Linked DNA regions of Homo sapiens. The protein of the gene in region 1 interacts with the protein of each later gene in a biochemical or structural test. Each region holds a gene or a part of one and is shown on either strand. Other genes may lie near its edges. The genes, in order: UBE2D3, NEDD4, SIAH2 and SMURF1.

Region 1 (2,710 bases):
AATTCCATGCCAGTATGGTTATTCAAATTAGCCAACTGTAGGACGTTAATGTATTTTAATATTCCAAGTGTAAATGTGGAAATCAATGTACTGTATTACAATTCAAAGTACTAGGAAATTGTCAGGTATCAGAAACGTAATACTTAAACACATTCTCTAAAGCCAAAAACAGCTATAAAAAAATAGCTGTAGAGTCAAAGGATTACTGGTTGTAGTCTGTTACAAGGGAATGCTACGAACAGACTTCTGAAAACGGTTCTCAATCTTCACTATTCATCAGAATCACTTGGAGGGTGTTTTAATATAGGTGACTGGGCTCCATGCCAGTTTGACTCAGGACTGGGATGGGGCCTGACAACTTATATTACAAAGAATTTCCTAAATGATGCTGAGATTGTTATCTCAAGAAACATTTTGAGAACCACCTTATTCATAAACTGTATAAAATTAAAAATCGAGCTCACACACATTAAGCTCAAGTGTGGATTTCATGTTAGCTGGAATTACCGAGTAAGACCAAAGTGTCTTTAAACACAGACTTTAATGGTAACAATTCCTTTAAGCTCAATTAACTTCAGCTATTACAAGTCTTATGCAGATGTCACTATTAGACAATATTTAGTGACTTGCACTGGGTTCCTCATAAAAGACAAATTCACTTAAAAGTGTAATCAACAATCATTAACAGTTTTGTTATGCCAACACAAAACATGGCTGAGTTACCCCCCTCCCCGCCCAAATTACTAACACAGCATGATCAGTACCTTAAGTATACTTCAACTAAGCCATTTCAACAAACAAAAAAAAACAAACAAAAAAAAAAGTGAGTGTTTCACTACCCCTGAGACCACTAGTTAACTGTGGTTCATACTTTAAAATGTGAGTACACCCACACAAGAAAGCAAATTAATCAGTTTTAAAAAATCTGATTATCACATTGCAAACTCGCCCAGGAAAAACAAACTGAGTCATTTAAAATGTAAATTTACCATTAACAGGCCAACTGGACCCTAATTCGGTTTATGCATTAAAAGATTTAGGAAATACAAAGACATAGTCAAAACTGATTCTAATACTCAGTTGGGTCCTATACATGGCACTAGTAATGTCAAATTACTGGGTGGAGTGGGGCAAAGAGGGCAAATTCTTAGATTCTTTTAAGATTTCATTGTACATATCTCATGTCCAGTGTCCATACATTCAAAAATGTTGGTTTTCCAGGTACTTTACTGTTCTTTTAAACCTGGAGAAGCCTCTATGGCTTATTCCCTTAGAAGCAACAAATGAAATGATGTATAAAGCATCAAGTCAAAGATACAGAGAACTGGACACATCCACTAATTGTTATGACAATCAAAGAAGTCATCTCCGTAAATACCTAAGGGTTGTCTAAGGCTATAAAGGTCAATTTGAAAGCCAGTTAGGGATCCACCGTGTTTCATAAAAGTGTCTTACACTCATGTTTGGCTTTCAAGAAGTGATATGCCTACTAAAGCTGTTATTTTGAGACTATATGCATCTCAGAAGTAATTTTGAAAATAGAGCCAAAGAGCAGTTTTTCTTACCTTGTGGAGCAGAATGTTAACTAATTTCTCATTCATAATTTGAATCCAAAAAAGTTATGCAGTATGACATCTACCCTGAAGGAGCCGTTTTAAGCAAAACACAAAATGAAAAAATTCACTCATTGGAAAAACTGCGTAGCTGGTTTTTTCCCCAATGAAATGATTACAGAATTAACAAAGCCAGAACATCTTCAGAAGGCATGCATTTCACTTCCAGTTTAGAGAAGAACCTTAAGTCAATAAATCATGTCCAAACTACATATTAAAATGTTTATAAAAAGTAAGTTTTAACATTTATTTCTAGCTTTCCACATGTGTGTGCAGACAAGGAATAAGATTGCACGTAAGTGTAAGCAGTGCAAAAATGTGGAAGTGGAGGAGTCACAGATGTGCTAGAACTTTAAGAAATAAAGCAGTGAACAAAATCAAAATAAACAGGAAAAATGTAAAACTATGGGATCAGAATTAGGAAAGGTGAAGAATGGTAATGCCCTTGTTACTACAGAAGTTAAATCAGTGGCACAGATAGCACTTGTCAAACAAAAAACAATCCAATAGCATTGACTTTTATTCATTCATGTTAAGTCACCTGAAATGATATCTGTTGCATTTAAATGCTCATTAATGTAAATGGCTGAACAAATCCATTTCAATGGATACTCAATATCCCACATAGATAAGTCACTTCAACACAGCCTCATGACAACTCCCACACCAAAACAGTACTTTATTTTGCAAATTTTGACCCATTATTACTCCCATGTTGTTTTTTTTCAGCTGTCAAGTGTACAAGGTGAAGAGAAATTTCAGTTAGACAGGGGCTGCACCTGGAAAATAAATTTCTTAAACTCCATAAACACATTTCAAAACTGCTGGGTCCCAAAAGTCCATCTATGAACTCTAGGGCTGCCAGTATCATGTGCAGCACATTAAAGCTACACTATCCAAATAGCTTATTAATTCTGCATAAATCAGGTCAAGCAATGTGTCAACCTGTAACAGACTGTGCACTTTAACTGAACATGGCAAAATATTCACTCTTTCGAACTTTACATCATCATTTGATGTCAAACAATGAAGCAAATCCCAACAGTATATACAAAAAACAGCTTTGCATTTACAAAAGATTGTTTCCCATACTGATT
Region 2 (7,041 bases), on another chromosome or scaffold:
CACACCATATAAAATTAATTAATTTTTAGATATACTTTTTTTTTTTTTTTTGAGACAGAGTGTTCTTCTGTTGCCCAGACTGGAGTGCAGTGGCGCAGTCTCGGTTCACTGCAACCCCCACCTCCCGATTCAAACAATTTTCCTGCCTCAGCCTCTCAAGTACCTGAGACTACAGGTATATGCTACCATGCCTGGCTAATTTTTGTATTTTTGGTAGAGACAGGGTTTCACCATGTTGGCCAGGCTGGTCTCGAACTCCTGACCTCAAGTGATCCACCCATCTCAGCCTCCGAAAGTGCTGGGATTACAGGTGTGAGCCACTGCGCCCAGCCTGTTATAAATACTTTCATCTTACACTGTTTTCCTTAATAACACTTATAAAATATTGATGTGTGATAATTTATTTAATGTTTCTCTCTCCCTCTTGGCTATAAAATCGGTAAAGTATATTCTATATCATTATACCTCATGCCCTGACCCACGTGCCTGATACATAGTGTTCATCAAATATTTGTTAAGCAAATACAGAAATCAAGTACTTCAGAGGTCCACCTAAAAGCTTTATCAAGAAAAGACAGAAGATGTGGAAATGAGAGCATAACAATTACAAGTTAATTTTGCACACATTCCATTCACATTCATCATATTCCTGAGAAAAAGTCTCTTCTGTTAAATTATTTTATTTGCGTATTAGTAGCAGGAAAGTGGAAGGACCAAGTGTTTGTTATGAATATAACACTTCTCCCTACTGGGAGAAGGTTCTTGAACAAATCAGAATCTCATATTCCTTATCTCTAAAATGGGGGTAATACTTCCTACTTCTGCAATAATGTTGTGATGATTACAGCTAAAGTATGAAAAAATCTAACCTGGTGCCTGGCACAGAGTGGGTATTCAGTTAAAGGCAGTTGCTATTTATTTAGGTTGACTCTTTTTCCCAAAGGAGAATACTTTCACTAAAGCATCTTTATTGACGGCCATGATTGTTTGTTCATATTACTCTCTTCATTGCCCCAACATGTCTCGCATCAGTTGAAGCCAGACATTTGAGTCCAGCCATGAGTTATAATAATGGGCTACAGACATATTTACTCAACTTTCAGAAAAGCCTTATCAAAATGCTTTTTGTTTGTGCTGTGCCTTTCTCCCTGCATTTATCTCCAGACTTCTCCTATCCCCTCCCCATTCATTTATCCTCTTAAACTTTGATACTATTGGCAAGGAGGCCAGAAGAAATAGAAGTCCTAAAGAAGAAGTAACATCAATTGCCACAGAATTCAGCAGAACAATGGGTTCAGCAATTCAAATCAGCTATCTGACTTAAAGATTCAGCTCTGGAGTAGATAACCATGATAGATTGAGAAGCAATTGTGTTCAACTGGTTCCTGCATGTCTCCAAATGCTATAGAATATTTCTGAGACAGCAAGGGGATGGGAGAATCAGCAGACTTAAATATCCTGCTCTGACTGATGTTTAATTATGCAAGATTCACCAAGTAAGTGACAGGGCCAGAATTCCAACACAAAAGAATCCCATTTTCTATACCCCTGCTCACCCTAAATGATTTATTTACAAGGTCTCTTCCAGCTCAAAGATTCTACTCCTATGTGATATATGAATTCCTAATTACCTATAAAAGAAATTATAGTTCCTTCTCCTTTTCTGTTCCTGGCGCAGAGCAGTCAATCACAGGCCACTACAGAAAATGTCTGTGGAGTGAGGGTGAATTTCACAGAGGTGCATGGTTGGCATGCTCGCCAGCACGGGGCACTGAGGGGAGGAGGGAGATACCATACAGAGATGCATCAGAAGGGTGCCCACTGGCAAGGGTACTGAGGAGGGGAGGACGGCGTTGCACAGGGATGCTGCATAGAGAATAGCAATATTCCCACTGGCATCCAAGGATGTGAAGAGCTGAAGTGGCAGAGGAGATGTCTGCGTGGTCAGGAAGTTAGTTACACTGAACACATAAGTCAATGAACAAATATATTAAGGATAATAAAAGTCAAATTTTTTCACTGTTAGAAAAGGTACTTATGGCTATAAAGGAACTCAGGTATTAGGTTTGAATTGGAAAAAATCAGTATGAATTCATGATTTTTAAATTTATGTATTTACAGATTGATATAGAAATAGCTATAGATCTTTGTGTATACTTATATATGTGTGTAGAGTACACATACACACACACACACACACACACACACACGCTTAACTGTTCAGAGATGGTCCAAGAGTATATCCCAGTAACAATGAGCACACCAAGTACCCAAATTGTAGCATGTAAAAACCATTTTATACTAAATAGGACCAGTGCTTCTAGGGAAAATGGCTGATTGTAGATAGCTGAGCCAAGCAAAATACAAGAGAAGCCTGGAACAACTTCTGCCAGAAAGTGTTCAAAGAATGATGGGGACTTGTTACGAAGACCTAGGAACCTCCTTGAAAGGGCTCCCACTGGACAAACTGGGACAGTATGAGCAATAAAATATTTAATGACAGTAACTGATTACAACCTGCTGAATAAAGTGGGATTTTACAAGTCTATGCTGATATAAATAAATGACAGGAAAAGGAAAGCTCTTCTTACATAGAATGCCAACTAACAGAGATGGAAATAAAACAAAATAGTGGTGTTTGGTTCAGATAGAATTCATCAATGGATGCTAAAACTGAGGATGAAGACTTGACGAGAAATAGGATATTGGCATAATCTTACGATATGTCCCCTGAAAATACTATCAATTATAAAGAGAAAAAAGGTGACATTACAGAGAAGAAACCTGGCAGACACCAAGGTGACCAAGTGATTAAGGTCACTGACAGTGTTGGGACAAGTCAGCATCATGTGTCCCCTGGTGTGATGCATGCGAAGAACACAGCATCATTTCTATGATTCCTGCCAAGAGAGCGTGACCTGAACATGGTCATCAAGAAACACTAAACAGACCCAAACAGACCCAAAATGAGAAACATCGTAGGATGTAAGGCCTGTCCTTGCTTTTTTTTTTTTTTTTTTTTTTTTTGTGAGACGGAGTCTCGCTCCGTCGCCGAGGCTGGAGTGCAGTGGCATGATCTTGACTCATTGCAAGCTCTGCCTCCCAGGTTCACGCCATTCTCCGGCCTCAGCCTCCCGAGTAGCTGGGACTACAGGCACCCACCACCACACCCGGCTAATTTTTTTTTTTTGTATTTTTAGTGGAGATGGGGTTTCACCATGTTAGCCAGGATAGTCTCAATCTCCCGACCTCGTGATCCACCCGTCTCGGCCTCCCAAAGTGCTGGGATTACAGGCGTGAGCCACCGCGCCCGGCCAAGGCCTGTCCTTCTTAAAACTGTCTAGGATAAGAAAAACTGTGCATGTGTCTTTATAGCAGCATGATTTATAGTCCTTTGGGTATATACCCAGTAATGGGATGGCTGGGTCAAATGGTATTTCTAGTTCTAGATCCCTGAGGAATCGCCACACTGACTTCCACAATGGTTGAACTAGTTTACAGTCCCACCAACAGTGTAAAAGTGTTCCTATTTCTCCACATCCTCTCCAGCACCTGTTGTTTCCTGACTTTTTAATGATTGCCATTCTAACTGGTGTGAGATGATATCTCATAGTGGTTTTGATTTGCATTTCTCTGATGGCCAGTGATGATGAGCATTTCTTCATGTGTTTTTTGGCTGCATAAATGTCTTCTTTTGAGAAGTGTCTGTTCATGTCCTTCGCCCACTTTTTGATGGGGTTGTTTGTTTTTTTCTTGTAAATTTGTTTGAGTTCATTGTAGATTCTGGATATTAGCCCTTTGTCAGATGAGTAGGTTGCGAAAATTTTCTCCCATGTTGTAGGTTGCCTGTTCACTCTGATGGTAGTTTCTTTTGCTGTGCAGAAGCTCTTTAGTTTAATTAGATCCCATTTGTCAATTTTGGCTTTTGTTGCCATTGCTTTTGGTGTTTTGGACATGAAGTCCTTGCCCACGCCTATGTCCTGAATGGTAATGCCTAGGTTTTCTTCTAGGGTTTTTATGGTTTTAGGTCTAACGTTTAAATCTTTAATCCATCTTGAATTGATTTTTGTATAAGGTGTAAGGAAGGGATCCAGTTTCAGCTTTCTACATATGGCTAGCCAGTTTTCCCAGCACCATTTATTAAATAGGGAATCCTTTCCCCATTGCTTGTTTTTCTCAGGTTTGTCAAAGATCAGATAGTTGTAGATATGTGGCATTATTTCTGAGGGCTCTGTTCTGTTCCATTGATCTATATCTCTGTTTTGGTACCAGTACCATGCTGTTTTGGTTACTGTAGCCTTGTAGTATAGTTTGAAGTCAGGTAGTGTGATGCCTCCAGCTTTGTTCTTTTGGCTTAGGATTGACTTGGCGATGCGGGCTCTTTTTTGGTTCCATATGAACTTTAAAGTAGTTTTTTCCAATTCTGTGAAGAAAGTCATTGCACACGTATGTTTATTGCGGCACTATTCACAATAGCAAAGACTTGGAACCAACCCAAATGTCCAACAATGATAGACTGGATTAAGAAAATGTGGCACATATACACCATGGAATACTATGCAGCCATAAAAAATGATGAGTTCATGTCCTTTGTAGGGACATGGATGAAATTGGAAACCATCATTCTCAGTAAACTATCGCAAGAACAAAAAACCAAACACCGCATATTCTCACTCATAGGTGGGAATTGAACAATGAGATCACTTGGACACAGGAAGGGGAATATCACACTCTGGGGACTGTGGTGGGGTCGGGGGAGGGGGGAGGGATAGCATTGGGAGATATACCTAATGCTAGATGACACGTTAGTGGGTGCAGCACACCAGCATGGCACATGTATACATATGTAACTAACCTGCGCAATGTGCACATGTACACTAAAACTTAGAGTATAATAAAAAAAAAAATTAAAAAAAAAAAAAAAAAAAGAAAAACTGAGGAAATGTTACAGATTAGAAGAGACTGCAAAGACATGCCACGTAAAAGCAATATATGTTCCCAGATAGGTTCTTAGACCAGAAAAGGAAAAAGAGAAATTATTAGTAACATTTATCAAAATTTGGATGGTATCTGTGGATTGAATGGCATTGTTGTATCAGTGTCCATTTCCTAGCTTGGAAGGGGGTATGGTTGTTATGCAGGAAAGTATTCTTGTTTTAGAAAAATACACACTAGAGTATTTAAAGATGATGGGGCATTGTGTCTGCAGCTTGCTCTCAAGTGGTTCAGAAAAAGATTAATGAAAATGGCAAAAAAAGGTGATGGAACAATTGCAGTGAAAAGGTTAACAGTTGCAGAATCTGTATGAGAAGAATACTGGAGCTCTTTGTGTTGTACTTTCAACTTTTCTGATGGTTTAAAATAATTTTAAAATAGGACGGGCGCGGTGCCTCACGCCTATAATCCCAGCACTTTGGAAGGCCGAGGCAGGCGGATCATCTGAGGTCAGGAGTTCGAGACCAGCCTGGCCAACATGGTAAAACCCCATCTCTACCAAAAATACAAAAATTAGCTGGGCGTGGTGGTGCGTGCCTATAATCCCAGCTACCCTGGAGGGTGATGCAGGAAAATCGCTGGAACCTGGTAGGCAGAGGGTGCAGTGAGCTGAGATCACGCCATTGCACTCCAGCCTGTGTGACAGAGCAAGACTCCGTCTCAAAAGTAAATACATAATTTAAAAATAAATTATTTTAAAAATACACTATATTTATTCACTTCTTTAGTCCCTGCTCCATGAAAAATACTTTACAATGATCCTGGAATTAAAGAGTTGCAAAAAAGCACTAATGGCAAAAACAATACATGAAAGATTGGGAGAAATTACTAATACAGCTGCTGCTTAACCTATGCTTCTCCTCCTTTGTGTGTAGTACATAAAGGTTTGGGAAGTTTGTTCCCAGACTGAGTAAGGGTCAGTTTCTGCTCAGCCTTAGTGGGTCCAGAAGTATCAGAATATGCCCTTCTTACCCTGCTACTTATGCACTGTTGTGGCTGCTGCCACCAGGGGCATCTATTATTCTGTATGTGCAAACTGCACTCTCCATACCGATAGCGGAGACTCTGAACTCTTTCCTCTTTATTTCCTTCCTTCTTTTCCTTGCTTCAGTCAGCCTTTCTTATAGGAAACAGAAATCATTCTAGATGCTTTAAGAAGAAAGAAGCTAATACAGGGGATTAGATGCTTACAAAATTTTTGGAAGAGCTGGAAGAGTAGGTGCTAGGCTGGACTTCTAGAGCAGGGGTCCCCAACCTTAGGAACCAGCCACACAGCAGGAGGTGAGTGGCAGGCCAGTGAGCAAAGCTTCATCTGTATTTACAGCCACTCCTCACCGATCACATTACCTCCGGAGCTCTGCTGCCTGTCAGATCAGCAGCGGCATTAGATTCTCATAAGAGCATGAACCCTATTGTGAACTGTCCATGCAAGCGATCTAGGTTGTGTACCCCTTATAAGAATCTAATGCCTGATGATTTGTCACTGTCTCCCTGTCTCCCATTACCGTCACCCACACTTGGGACCATCTAGTTGCAGGAAAACAAGCTCAGGGCTCCCACTAATTCTACATTACGGTGAGCTGTATAATTACTTCATTACATATCACAATGTAATCATAATAGAAGTAGAGTGCACCATACATGTAATGTGCTTGAATCATCCTGAAACCACTGGACCGCATCCCCGGTCCATGGAAAAACTATCTTCCATGAAACCGGTCCCTGGTGCCAAAACAGTTGGGGACTGCAGTTCTAGAAGATCAGAAACATGGCAGAACTGACCCATCCAGGAAGCTACTACCTCTCCCAGTCAGAAAGGTAGATGATCAGGAGTCATCACCAGAACTGATGACTTCAAGAATATAATCAATCTTGACGTCTGGAAGCCACTACCACCACTACTTCGGTGACTTCCTATCAATATGTACAAAGCAAGTTACCAGATACTGGAATACTTTCGCAGAAAATTTAGATGTTTACATGACTGTGCTTATCAGCAGAAAAAGCCAAAGAAACAAAACAATATGCTCCACCTCATTTCCACTC
Region 3 (7,069 bases), on another chromosome or scaffold:
AAGTTTGGTTTATCCAGACTAACTGGCTGAGCTGCCCTGCCAATAGTTTGGATTATTGATCAACCAAAGGTGAGGGACACACACCCCAGCTTTATACAACTCACACACATGCACACACAAAAGCATCCCCAAGATCACATCCTAAGCTTGGTTCTTGGTCTGCAGGGGAATAATTGGCCCTTTTAAATTTCAGCTTGCAAAGTAATAGCTTTACCCCACTGCATTCTTATAGAATAGAGACTCAGAAAACCACTGACATGTACAGAAAGGCTGAGAACCCCTGATTCCCAGAACTACTCTTCAAGGTTGATTTCAGTAGCCTGTTTCACGTTAGGAAAGAACGTATGCTTTCATAGGAACCAGAGTTCTAGATCCTGAAAGTGAAACTTCATGCTCCATATAGCATAACTGTTTCCTTCCCTTTCTCTTGGGAACAACACAATTCTATTATGGTTACATTTTAAAAACAAATTATGGATTACTGACTAATATCAAATGCTCATTTGTGAACTAAAACTCACCTAAAAGCCATTTCTTTTGTTAGCCGCTGCGCGTTTAAGGGAAAGTAAAGGGGTGAGAAAATGGCTCCCCAGAAATCCTATGGGGCATCCCCCACCCCTGCAATATATCTCAAGCATCAAATAGCCACTCTATGTTAACTACCACCAAACCTTTTCCAACCACTAGGTTGTCACCTTTTTCACAACCCTAAGACAACTATGCAAATACTTTATCTAAATTTTGAGAAACTGGGCTGAGTGAATTAGTAAGCACTATATGAGGAGGGGTTAACAGCAATTTATTAAGGTTGCCTGAAACACCCTAGTCCAAACACCGATTCAAACTCTTATTTAAATATGCTATTTTAAACCTGATTTGCAGCAGGGCAGCAGACCAAATTAAAGCACTCATTTTACTGACCTGAGTCCCAAGCCTGAATTCTCTGGTGGATTATTTTTAATTTAAAAATGAGCTCTTGTCCTATAAAATAAGCAGCACCAAGGAGAAATGCAAGACAGCTTAAATGGCCCAAGAGGCAGCGCAAGTTACTTTTACAAAAAAACTGGAAAGTATTAGTGACATTATCTCCACTTCTAATTTCAGAAAATGACTTTACAGTATACTTCTAGGTTATAACGTAGACAAGTATGTCTGTGAAACTGCTCCTGAAGGTTTCCACGTAATAGCTGCAGGTAAACAAATGTTATAATATGACCACACAATGCAATACTATGCAGCCATTTAAAATACAATGAAGTCGACTAGGTTTCAGGCATAGAGAAATATGTGTGATAATATGAATTTAAGAACAGCAAGTTGCAGATGCCATTTTTGGAGAAAAACTTACATCTATGTGTGGGTATTAAAAAACCTCCCTGACATACACTGACATCTATGATTCTATATTTAGCTGCGAGGGTGTATGTATATATAGTTTAAAAAGATACACACTAAACCTAACAATGGTGGGAAAGGAGGGGAGAGATCTTGGTCTTTCATTTTACTTCTTGTCTTGGTGGCTTGCATTTTTCGCAAGGGCATTGAAAACTTTTTACATTAAATAAAAAATGAAGTGATGAGCTTTAAACAACTGTAACAACAGCTCTTGAGTGCCCTTGTTAATTTCTTGATTGACTGTTTTCACCCCACTTAGTACAACAACGCAGCCACAACTCCTCAGTCCTTCCCAGTCTTTGGAAGGCTAGGAGAGAAAAAGGCGTGGCTTGCAGGGTTTTCTTCTAGCTAGAGGAAAACAGGCTGTAGGCGCCCTTTTTTTAGCTACAATCCCGAGAGCTCCCACGTGTCAGGGGTGCGCAGACGGTAGGCGCGGGGTGCAGGACTCCAATTATCAATTCAGCCGAGCCCAGCGCTGGTAAAGGGGGCGTTTAGCTCGCCCGTTTCCTCCCTCCTCAATCCCCACACAGTCAGTTTCTCGGTCCAAGTTTTACTGGTGCGGCCCAGCCCTACCGAGAGTACCCGAATACACGTCTGCAGAGGACGCGGGCATTGGGCCGGGTGAGCTACGATGTTCTAACGATCAGCAAATGCCAATTAATCTGTTAATTGTCTATTAACAATTATTACTCGGTAAATGTCAACCCAGACCTACACCCAAAGTGGGCTTGAGGGAGGGTGGACGAAGTGTAAACATTTTTTCTTTTTTTTTTTTAAATGAGAGATGCCGCCCGCCTCTCCGGGCCTGCGAGTGGGCTGGCGGATACCGGAGTCCCTGAGGTCACCGGCGGAGGTACGTGGGCTGTCCCTGGGCTTACCTTACAGGGAAACAGGACTGCCGAGGCCACCTTCTCCATAGCCAGGTTCCTGATGCTGGGCGTCAGGGCGCCCCTGCACGTCGGGCAGCAGCTCAACTTCTGGCGGCATTGGTTACACACCAGGTGCCCGGCCTGGCACTGCAGAATAGGAGGCAGGACATAGTCAAAGCAGACCGGACACTCGAAGAGCGAGGTCAGCTCGTGGTGCTGCGGGGACACCGGGCCGGCCCCGCCGCCGCCGCCGGGGCCCGAGATCACCGCCGCCGCGGCGGGCACCGCGGACGAGCCGGGGCCCGCAGCCGAGATGGTGGCGGCGGCCGGGGGCGCAGCCGGGGACGGAGTGTGCTGGGGCTGCGGCGGCGGCTGCTTGCTGCAGGGTTTATTAGCGCTGGGGCCGGTGGAGGACGGGCGGCTCATCGCGCTCCGAACCAACCATGGAACTGCGGGCGCCTGCCTGCCGCGGGGCCGCCCGGGTCAAGGCGGTGCGCGCCCCGCGGGCAGCGAGCTCCGAGGCAACGCCACGGCGCCCAGCCCAGGTCCGGGCGGCGGAGACGCTCGGCGCCCGGCAGGCGGAGGGCTGGACCGCGCTGATGCACTCCGCAGCCCCCGGCGTTCCGAGCACGCCTCCGCGTCGGACCCCGCGCGGTGCCCTCCTCCCGGCGGCGTCCCGGGCCCCGAACCCCAGCGGTGCGCAGAGCCCTGGCCCACCCGCTTCTGGAACAGCCGCTGACGCAAGCCCCGGGGGCGCGCGCGGACGTGACGCCTGGACACGTGTGCGGCCGCCCAGGCGCGCGGGGACTGGCAGAGCCACCCTGCGCCGGGGCGCTGGCTCCGCCCGGCTCCAGCTGGCAGCGCAGGGGGCCGCCTAGCGCCGGCGCTTCCTGCTCGGGCTGCGGGCCGGGCCTGCGCCAGTGAGCATGCCTGGCTCGCTGCAGCCCCGCGGGGTTGTCTTTTCTGGGTTGAGGAGGGGGGCTACTCTCGGGGAAGCGTCGCCGAAGTCCTCTGGCCACACCCCGGGGTGCCTGGCTGACGCGTCCCTCAGCTCAAACGAGAAAGGCAACTTCAGGCGGGGCGGGAGCGTGGACGGTGGGTGGGACCGGACGCGGGCGGGCAGGGGCGGGGCGCGGGCGCCCCTGCACTAGTCGGAAAAAACCGAGAGGTTTCTCTTCTCAGGGCTGAGTCACCAGCACGCAGGAGAAGAGGGCGAAGCGGCCACCCGCGTTCTGTGTTCGGAGTCAGGACGAGAAGCATTGGGTGGGAGCAGGGCGAGGGGCTCGAGTTGGGTCTGCAGCGGGCACAGGACCTAGTTTTGTACAGTTAACGGTGGGGTTGAGTAAAGAGGGGGGCGGTGGGGAGGATGTAAGCTCCCTTTATTCCTTTCCCAGCGGACCAGGAGGAAGCTTCGTTGAATTGAGCGCCCCTGGCTCGTATAGCAGGCCGAGGAGGGAGCTCATGGGCAGCGTTGGCTAAGAGTTCGAGATCATCTAGAAATGTCAGAAACGTAGGTTGGGTCGTGAGGTCTCTGAAGACAGTGGGTGAAACTCCAGTGTAAGGCGCTGCGTCCGCTTGGTAGAGAGCCGGCCGAAGTCCGAGTCTTTGTTGCGAGGCGTAGGGCCACCCTGCGCGCCCAGCAGAAGCGCTAGAGGGCACGGTTGCCCGGGGTGAACCGCATGTCCAAATGTAACTGTGTGCTCCGAGTTAAAATTGTTTTTCTGCAGACTTTGCTTGAGCCAACGATTCCGGAATTGGGGAAAGGGTTACCTTAGGTAGAAATCGGAAATTTATAGGAGACACAGAGGTAAGGACCAACTGTTAGGACTGAGTGAAAAATGGTTCCCTCCAACTGTAAAAGTGGAAAAAAAAATACCTATCTTATAGGTGGGGCAGTGAGGAGTAAATGAGTTTAATATATTTCAAGCTTTTAAAACAACCTCGCCCATCATAAGCACTGTTTAAACATTAGCTCTTATCTTTTAAAAATATTAGTGGATGTTTAAAATGAATGAATACAATTTGTCCAAGAAATATGGCGTAAGAGCCCAGAAGAAATAAAGTTTAATCTTACAAAGGGCTTCTGTAGAAAGAATACATGCATGGAATTGATGGAATTTGGTATAAATCTTGAAAAAACTTAATAGGTGTATTCAATCGTTCAGTAAATGTTTCCTGAGCATTTATCATGTGTCAGCTACTGTTGGAGCTCTGAGAATGGTTCTCATGCAGTTTACATTCTAGTAAGAGAGCAAGGCCCAATAACCAAGCACTCGTGGGAGAAGAAGGATTTCAGATACCACGGGGTGGGCAGGCATTATAGCAGGAGCTAAAAAGCACAGAGTGAAAGCATGTATTCTGGGATTGCATTGGGACTTGGAGGGGATATAACGGGAGTGTAGGGGTGTGGCGTTAGCACAAGGGGAGCCTCAACTGGCTTAATAAGACATTTACCTCAATGATAGGGGTAAACCACTGTAGGGTTTTGTTTGTTTTTTTAAGAACACACAACAACACTAGGTTTTGTAGGTTTTTGGAAGCTCTTTAGTAACATGGCTGAACCTGAGTTTTTGGATAGGTAGGGAGCATAAAATAATAACTAATGTTAATTGAGTGCCCACTGTATGTTGGGCATGGATAGTTTTAAGTATTTATCATAACTCTCTGTGATGAATACTACTGTTATCTCCATTTTACAGTTGAGGAAACCGAGACATAGGTTACTTTGCTCAAGATCACACAGCTGAGAATGTGGGAACACGCTAGGAGCCCTTCTTAACTACTAGTCTGTATGCCTCTAAATTATGCCTGATTCCTACTTACAGTCTTGTTAAACAGTTAAGATTAGCACACTCAACAGAGTCAGAAAACAGTTGTTCAGCCTATAATAAAGCACTAAATTTTGTGGGCAAACTTTACATAAACTCTTTCCTTAGCTGGTCTAGAGAGAAAAATTAAATCATGTTCTATTTATTTCATTTTCACCTTTTTATGACACAAAATATAAGTGATAACACAAAAATCACCTACTGTTTTACTGTTATTGGAGGAAATGTAATATTTTTCATTCTTAATTTAAAATCAAAGCATTTGGAATTTATTAATGGAACACATTTTCTTTCCTTCCACTTCTAGCCTCTCTGTGTGATGACCTCCATCCCCACGGCTTCTTACTAGCTCTCATTAGGAGACTGGAGTCCTCACCCTTGCCCCATTGACACGAGCTTTAAGTGTTCCAGCTAGATAGGCCCTGGTCATTCAGAAAACAATTTGGTTTGGGAGGTGTTGAAAGAAATAACAGGAAAAGCAATTCTCTGCAGAGAGAATTTGGTTTATTTTTCTAAAAATACAGCGAACCCATCCACTCTTACCCTGGCAGATGCCTCCCCTGGTATAGAGAAATTTCTTCTTTCTTCCTCCTTCACATCATTGCACACCTGATTAAGTCAACCAGGGTAATTAAAATACAAAAGCAAAACAAAAAAACTCTGGGCAGTTGCTGAAGGTAGGCAGGGGGAGAGTGGATAGGTCTGCTATGTGAGCCACATCAATGACCAGGCTGGTCTTCCCAGTCGCCTTTCTTCTTCCTCCTTCCTTGGTGACTTTTGAAACAAAGAAAGGTGACCTTTGCATACCGGGCACTATGAGCTAGAGCCTCCTCTTCCAGCGGGCAGTCCGCTCAGAGGTCGAATTTAGCGTGTACTCAAAATGTGTGCTGAGTTGAGTTGTTGGGAGGTTTATTTACCCTTTGGAGTGTCGCTGCTGCTTCTTGGCCTGTTTAGTGAGTGACTTTGTGGTCTGGGGGAGCAGGGTCCAGCCTTTTGTTATCTCCTGATTCATGACTCATTTACCACATCTACTGTATGAGAGGTTGGTCTCATTCGCCCACCTACTGAGTCCCAGATTGCATATGTCAAGCAGGACACCTCTCCTTAACCCATCTGCTCTATGCTAAGCTTGAAAGACTAGGGGTGTACTGAGTAGCCTTTTCTTTCCTTAAAATAGCAGGGTGAGTCTTAAAAAAAACACCTCACAGGTGAGTTCCTAATTTCACTAAACTGCTGAGCACAGTGAGAAATGCTCCAGCTAGGCAGACAAGCTCTTGCCCTTTTTTCTGTAACTTACAAATTGTGTGGTTTTGCAAATCAGGCAACTTCTGCCATCAGGCAAATGTGCATTTGCAGAGCAAATTGTGGTTGGCTTTTTAGAGATGACTCAGGTATGCATTGGAGCTTGCTGCATGGAAATTCCTCATCAGGGGAAGCTTGTGGGAAATCTGGAGGTGATGTAAGGCCCCCTGGTAATTATAGTAGGAACTTTTAACTTCATCTGTTTCTGGGGTAATTTCCAAATGCTCAAACTTCTTTTGAATAATTGTAGGTCTCTTAATTCAAATCTTTTTTTTTTTTTTTGAGACAGGGTCTCACTCTGTCACCTAGGCTTAATGCAGTGGCTGGATCATGGCTGACTGCAGCCTCAACCTCCCAGGCTCAAAGGATCCTCCTGAGTAGCTGGGACTACAGGCACGTGCCATCACGCCCTGCTAGTTTTTTAGTTTTTGTAGAGAAGAGGTCTCACTGTGTTGCCGAGGCTGGCCTCAAACTCCTATACTCAAGTACTCCTAATTCAAGCATTTTTTTGAACAACCATCATGGACTTAGCACTGTGTACTAAGAGCAGTTCTATGTATTTGCATTATTTTTGTATCCACACTTAGCTAATTAGTGCTCACCCTGTACCAGGGAGTGTTCCAAGTACTTTACATATTTTAATTCTCTTAATTCTCACAATGTCTTTTATAGGGT
Region 4 (7,041 bases), on another chromosome or scaffold:
TTTTTTTTTTTTTTTTTGAGACAGGGTCTCGCTCTGTAAGGCTAAACGTGCCTTATTTCCAGAGTTTTTTGGTTTTGTTTCGTTTTTTTTTGCAAATTCTACTCCTGAGCAATTTGTTTATTTTTCTCTTTTCCCCAATCCTTAGAATCTGTGAACAATTTCCTGGTTTTGATATTATACCAGAGTTTTACAAGGGACTAAAACTTCTACCCATGTTTACAGGTATTTCCTCACCAGGCTCAAGTGAGGAACCACGCGAGAACCCTTTGGAAACTATGAAACACTGTACAGACGGGAGGTATTAGTATCACTGACAGGTATGAACAGGCAGCAAGCAGGTCTCACCTCTATAATTTGTAGGTAATATATGTAGAAATAAAATTGAGTAAACTTTGGATTTTTTTTACCCCAAAGACCTAAGAGGGGAAAAAAGCAAATATATCACATTGAAGTTACCATGTTTTCTACTTCTACAGAGCCAGATGCCAATATTGCTTTTTAAAGCACTTCTAAAATTAAAAACAATCCCTTAAAAAAGTTCATGGCAAACACATTGACTATAAATACTTGGAAAAATACTAAATTATTATTACTGGCTTATGCAAATGAGCATTTTACTCCTATTTTAAAGATGAGATTATTTTATAAAAATAGGTCAGAGATAACCCCAAATGACATTCTAAATAAATTATGTAAACCACTATTATTCAGAACCAAGACCTCAGTTTTTTAAAGAACTCACTATATAAACAAGATCTAGAGTCCAAATTTCTTAATCTGAAAGTAATCATTTTGCCTTATTTTAATATGATAGAACAAGCTTTTTGGGGGGTCAGGCAACTCGCTATTACATAATAAACATACTCTCTGGGAAAATAAGTCTGTTCAGAGCTATAAGACAAGTAGCCAAGAATTTTATTCTGTAGAACCCAGGAATCTTCCTAGTGAGGAAGTCCTTATAAATATGAGTATGTACTTTGAAATGCTATAATATTTTAGCCTTTTAAAATACATTCGGCACAATCATTTTGATTTTTCAGAATGTCTACATTTCAAAACAATTGGCAGTTAGTGTACTTACTAGTTGCTCTAAGAAATTCTTATCTATTTAAGAGCTTTTTAATCTTTTTAATTGTTGAAAAGCAATACATGCTCAAGGGGGTGAGAAAAGGGAGGAGATTAAATATTACAAAAGGCATATAATGAAAAGTCACCCTCTCTTCTCTCTTTTCTCTCCTCTCTCCCTCTCTCCTCTCTCTTTCCTCTGAAGAGGAGAACAGGAGAATCTCTTCAAAGGAAATCAACAGTCAAAATCTTTCAGTCGTATTCTATACAGACCTATCTATAGATTTCCCCCTTTATTTTTATTTCTTGTTTTATTATTCAAATAGTACACACACTAGCCTCTGTTTTGAATCATGCTTTTTCCCCCCACTCAATAATATATCTTGGAGAATGTTCCATATCAGAATATAAAACACTATCTTATTATGTTACAGCTACACATCATTGGGAATACACGATAATTTACTTAACTAGTCCCTGCTGATACACATTCACATTGATTTCAGTCTTTTATAATTTCAAACAATGCTGCAATGATTTTACACACCGGACTTTACATAAATGTGTGAAAACACCCATAAGAAAAAAGTCCTACATGCAGAATTGCTAGATCAAAGAGCATAAACATTTATGATCTGATAGACAGTGCCAAACTGCTCTTGGTACCTACTCTATCAATTTATATTCTCAACCACTAGAGTAAAAGACCTGTTTTTCCACACTCTTGTCTCATCACAGAAGATTTTCAATCTCTTTGATCTGCCACTCTTCTAGATGAAAAATTGTTTCATTCTTACTTTTAATTTGTAGTTTGTTTAGTATGAATAGGGCTGATTATCAATTAAAAATAAATTTTTAGAGAAAGAAAATGGGCATAAGAGAGAACAGGGCACAGCGGCATATACTTGCAGTCCCAGCTACTCAGGAAGCTGATGATCGCTTGAGCCCAGGAGTTCCAGGCTGCAGTGAGCTATGATCACGCCAGTGTACTCTAGCCTAGCCTGGGCGACAGAGCAAGACCCCATCTCTAAAGAAGAAAAGGAAAGAAGAAGAGAGAAAATAGGGTTGTCTTTTCACATGTTTCAAATCCATTTCCATTTTCTTTTCTGTGAATTGTCCATATTCTTTGCCTATTAGGTACTGGCCTTTTCCTAATTGATTTTGAAGGCTCTTTATATATTAGGAAAACCAGACTTTCATTTTCGTATCCATTACAGATTGTTGTTCCTAGTTTGTCTTTGCATGTTGATTTTATCCTATTTTTTGCCATGGAGAAATTTTCCATCCAGCTAAAGTTTTTTATTGTTTATAAGTGTTTTTCAGCTGATCTTTTGGGCTTTTAAAGATATATCATAACGTCTATAAATAACAGCAATTTTGTTTCCTGCTTTCTGATGTCTTTCTCTAGTTATTAATAATAACTATTTTGACAGTGTACATCCCTGCATTGTTCCTGATTTTAATGGGAATGTTTCCACAATTTCATCATTTAAAGATGATGCTGGCTAGGTGCAGTGGCTCATGCCTGTAATCCACGTACTTTGGGAGGCTGAGGCAGGTGGATTGCTTGAGCTCAGGAATTCAAGACCAGCCGGGCAACAGGGCGAAACCCCATCTCTACCAAAACTACAATGATTAGCCAGCCGTGGTGGCACATGCCTGTGGTCTCAGCTACTCGGGAGGCTGAGGTGGGAGGATCACTGGAGCCCAAGAAGTCGAGGCTGCAGTGAGCTGTTATGGTGCCACTGCACCCCAGTCTGGGTAACAGAGTGAGACCCCATCTCCAAACAAAACAAAAAATAAACATGATACTGTCCGATGGCACATTACCTGGCCTGGGAAAAACATAAAATAAAAATAAAGATAATACTGGTTTTGGCTTCTAACACTATTTCTCTAAGGAATTTCTGAATACATAATTTATCAATTCATTGTATTATTTTTCCATGTTTATTAACCGGTTCTATAGATTTTCTTCAATGTCAAAGTACGTTATTAGCTTTATTATTTACCTGGCTATTTAGGAATAAGACATAACAGGAATCTATGACTGTATTAATACTGTGCTACTCTATAAATAATTCATAACTACTCATTAAAATATTTAATCCATCTCTAGCAGGTCCTTTTGTGCTCTAAAAAGACAGATCTCTGGCATTAAAGATAGGAAAACTGAATCATGAAAAGATCATAATCCTATGCACCCCCTCCCCTTTCTTCATTGTGGTACTTGTGTGAATTAGAAATCAAATTCAGACCTTCTGATCCCCAGTCCAGTGTTGGAACCACAGGAAAGCATCATGCCCTTTAGAGAACTCAGCGGATGCCCAACATACAAAGAACGCAGGCTGCCATCTACAATCTGCAGCTTCGTGACATGCTCCTCCAGACTCCTGAAAGCAAGCTGCAAGTTGGGCTCCGGAGCTTAAAACATCTGAAATGCATCACCCAGCAGCCAGGAGGATAGGTTCCTGCTCAGTGATAAACGATGTTGCCGACATTCCTCAGCCAATTAGAATTCCTTTCAGCTGCAGTGGAGGTGAACACAGCTGGAATTACAGAGTGGGGCGCGTCACCAGACGCGCTGATTATACATTATTTAAGCCTTGTTTTAAAACAATATGAGGGTGTTTTTTCCCCCATTAGTCCAGAAATGTGGAAACAACATTCCACTTGGTTTAAATATCTAAATGGATTAAATTGCATCTGGAGACAAAACAGTAATAGTGACATTTTAAAAAGAAGATATGCCCAAGCCCCATAGCTATGTGCTTTTGTTTTTTAAACATAGCTCCATGGCTTTCCTTTAACTAGAAAGGCCTTAGGGACTTTAGTCAGTCAGAATGAGTTCCCTGGACAAGAAGCTAATTTAAGTTGGAGGCTTTCACTTACAAATTCACTTACAAAATAACAAACCAGTAATTTAAAACTTGTTCAGTGACAAAAAAAAAAAATTGTATATTCCTTGTTTAAAAAAAAATTAGCCTCTAAAATGGTTTTGAAATTATAAAAAATTGATCCAAATAAGCATCCTAAAAGTTAGCTGTCTTACCCAGCAAATCAGAGCATGGCGAAGATATCAAGTTATTTCATCCATTTGAGGCTTTTTTGAACCACTGAATAAAACGCACAATTCAGCTATTTTAACTGTTAACCAGTGCCCACGATGTTGTACAAAACAGCCAGTCTAGTTAACTGGATCACTGAGGTGATATTGAAACACTATTTGTCGTTTTGTCTTTTTTTCTTTCTTAATCCATGAGGAAATATTTCATAAATAACACAGCCTCCAAAACCTTTCTTTCACCCAATTTTCCACACTAGAACCTGACATTGTGACTGAACCGAGAAAATGAAAATGTGTGGAAGAGAAAGAAAAACCCAACATTCAGAAAGGACTTTTGTAACTGCAAGACTAGAGGTTTTAAACTCTGACAGATGGACTTGAAGTTAAAAATCCTAGTTTGATAAATCACAACTACTGTAAAAATGGAGATAGAAATAAAGCATATGAAAGATTTCATGTCTAAAGTCAGTTGGGTGGGCCAAGAAGATTAAAAGGAAAAAAAAATGGATTTGAAAAAAGAAAGTTGTTCTAAAAGGCAACACAAATGTGATCAAATCACAAAATCAATGACAAAAACCTCTATTTGGCAGAATGTGATTCTTCTTAAAGTATAATTGCAATTCAAGTTTTGCAACAGCATTTGTTCTAACCCATCCTACACCTTCCAATAATTCATCTCAAAGAACTGCCTTAACTGTATCTTCCTAAACTTGAGGCAGACCCTAAGGAAAATGTAAATGCAAAGGGAGCTAAAAACTGACCACTTATTCCATCTTATCACAGCAACTGTGTTATATGGTTTTTGAAACAAAAGTTTTGCCTGCCTCACATAAGTGAGGTTCTTAGCTGGTACAAATTGACAAAGTCAACAGTCTTAACAATTTTCTTAATCTTTCTTGAGAGACTTAACTATTTTGAATCAATTGAGACACCTGTAATTCATCAACCAACATCATCAACAGCTATTACCACAACTATTTCACTCACAGTTGCACCATCTGAATGCCAAAACACAAGTCACCCTTACATCCCACAAGCTACAATTTTAAAAACAACCTCATATTTCCACATGCTATCAAGGAAAGTCTCTTTGTTCCTCTCTGTTTGGAATTAGAGTTTTTCTTACTTCACAATATGCAGTCATGCTCCAAAAGATATAAAAACACCAGGATATCTGAGAGTATTTCAATGCATAAAAGCACAAAAAAGTTTAGGCACTTGTATTTCAACTAATTGGTTGACATTACAATAAAATTTAATTTTCTTGAAGAGCATTGTAGAACCCTGAATTCCATTCTTTTACCCAAAGTGGCCTAAACAATGTGTCTGGGATTCATTTGTGTACCAGATAAGAACAAAGTTTTTGCAAATCCTGCTTGATTTTTCAATCAAAATGTTTCTAAAGTGTTTGATTTGCCAGTGAACTCCAATGACTACAAGATAATGCTCTTTAACAAAAGATCACTTGATTCTGGATATATTATGCCCCTAAACCTACTGAAACCATTTAAAAACTATTTTCCTACTAAAATACCACAAAAACATTCGTTAAAATGTTATTATTTTAAATACAAAGGCTCAAATATTCTTCTACTGTTTAGACCAGGTTGCCAAAGCAGTTCAACATATTACCCAACAGTTTTCAAAAACAATCCCACATGAAGAAATAAAGTCATAAATGTAATCAATACACAAAATTAATGCTTGGCATAAATCAAACACATGTGCTACACTCCAACACAATTTTCTGAATATCAGGATTAAGAATACCACTAAGCCCAAGTGCCCAACAGTAATTTGAAATAAGTAGGTAGCTAAATTGATATATCCTGTGAGAAGGAGGATCAAAGAGTATTATAATGGAGCTGAAATCTCATTTGATATATAAAGAAACTGAGACCCAAAAAGGTTAAATAACTTGTTCCGTAACATGTAGTTAATGAGAAATCTGTCTAGAATCTAGGTCTCCTAACTGTAAATCTAATGCCCTATTCACCCCCAAATAGAATCGTGGACCCCAAAGTTCTAAATGTAGTATCTTCAGTATCCTTTTTTTTTTTTTTTTTTTTTTTGAGACAGAGTCTCACTCTGTTGCCCAGGCTGAAGTGCAGTGGCACAATCTCGGTTCACTGCAAGCTCCACCTCCCAGGTTCAAGCCATTCTCCTGCCTCAGCCTACCCAGTAGCTGGGACTACAGGCGCCCGCCACCACACCCAGCTAATTTTTTGTATTTCTACTAGAGACGAGGTTTCACTGTGTTAGTCAGGATGGTCTCAATCTCCTGACCTCGTGATCCGCCCCACCTCAGCCTCCCAAAGTGCTGAGATTACAGGTGTGAGCCACCGCGCCCAGCTAATTTTTTGTATTTCTAGTAGAGACGGGGTTTCACCGTGTTAGCCAGGATGGTCTCAACCTCCTGACCTCGTGATCTGCCTCAGCCTCCCAAAGTGCTGGGATTCAGGCGTGAGCCACGGCGCCAGGCCATCTTCACTATCTTTGCACTGAATTTCGCTCTGTGTCTATTCATTGACTGGTTGAAATATCCCTCATTTTTAACAGTCTTTTTTTTTTTTCCAAATAACAAACATGGAAATAAACTCTGAAACCTGTAACAAAAGTATTCAAATTTTGAAAGATTGCTTCTCAACATCCCAGAAGTGAGAATTCAAACTTCCCTTAACCAGAAAGATGAGACTAAAACCTATTCCACCGTCAACAAACTTCTAGTTCAAACCTTTCGAGGTAAACTAAGGTTCCACGTACTGGCATTGCATGTGTACCATTACCGCTAAACCGCAATCCTATTGTAAGGATGATCACACTCACAAATCCTCTCAAACCATTCATAACATCTACTGAAAGGGAAAGGGAAAGGGAAAAGGTGTTTCAGAAACAACACTCATCACCTG

The links.
Region 2: the proteins of UBE2D3 (region 1) and NEDD4 form a complex in vitro, tested with the Homo sapiens proteins (17 studies listed by BioGRID and IntAct, with this or other methods).
Region 3: the proteins of UBE2D3 (region 1) and SIAH2 form a complex in vitro, tested with the Homo sapiens proteins (5 studies listed by BioGRID).
Region 4: the proteins of UBE2D3 (region 1) and SMURF1 form a complex in vitro, tested with the Homo sapiens proteins (15 studies listed by BioGRID, with this or other methods).

The regions. Positions count from the first base shown.
Region 1 is NC_000004.12:102,793,861-102,796,570, forward strand, and holds the end of UBE2D3 (ubiquitin-conjugating enzyme E2 D3), read right to left. Parts: 3' UTR 523-2,710; downstream 1-522. UniProt on the Homo sapiens protein: Accepts ubiquitin from the E1 complex and catalyzes its covalent attachment to other proteins. In vitro catalyzes 'Lys-11'-, as well as 'Lys-48'-linked polyubiquitination.
Region 2 is NC_000015.10:55,983,579-55,990,619, forward strand, and holds part of NEDD4 (E3 ubiquitin-protein ligase NEDD4), read right to left. Parts: intron 1-7,041. UniProt on the Homo sapiens protein: E3 ubiquitin-protein ligase which accepts ubiquitin from an E2 ubiquitin-conjugating enzyme in the form of a thioester and then directly transfers the ubiquitin to targeted substrates. Specifically ubiquitinates 'Lys-63' in target proteins.
Region 3 is NC_000003.12:150,760,160-150,767,228, forward strand, and holds the start of SIAH2 (E3 ubiquitin-protein ligase SIAH2), read right to left. Parts: upstream 3,011-7,069; 5' UTR 2,691-3,010; coding exon 2,274-2,690; intron 2,249-2,273; exon of another isoform or gene 2,178-2,248; intron 2,017-2,177; exon of another isoform or gene 1,778-2,016; intron 1-1,777. UniProt on the Homo sapiens protein: E3 ubiquitin-protein ligase that mediates ubiquitination and subsequent proteasomal degradation of target proteins.
Region 4 is NC_000007.14:99,134,101-99,141,141, forward strand, and holds part of SMURF1 (E3 ubiquitin-protein ligase SMURF1), read right to left. Parts: intron 1-7,041. UniProt on the Homo sapiens protein: E3 ubiquitin-protein ligase that acts as a negative regulator of BMP signaling pathway. Mediates ubiquitination and degradation of SMAD1 and SMAD5, 2 receptor-regulated SMADs specific for the BMP pathway.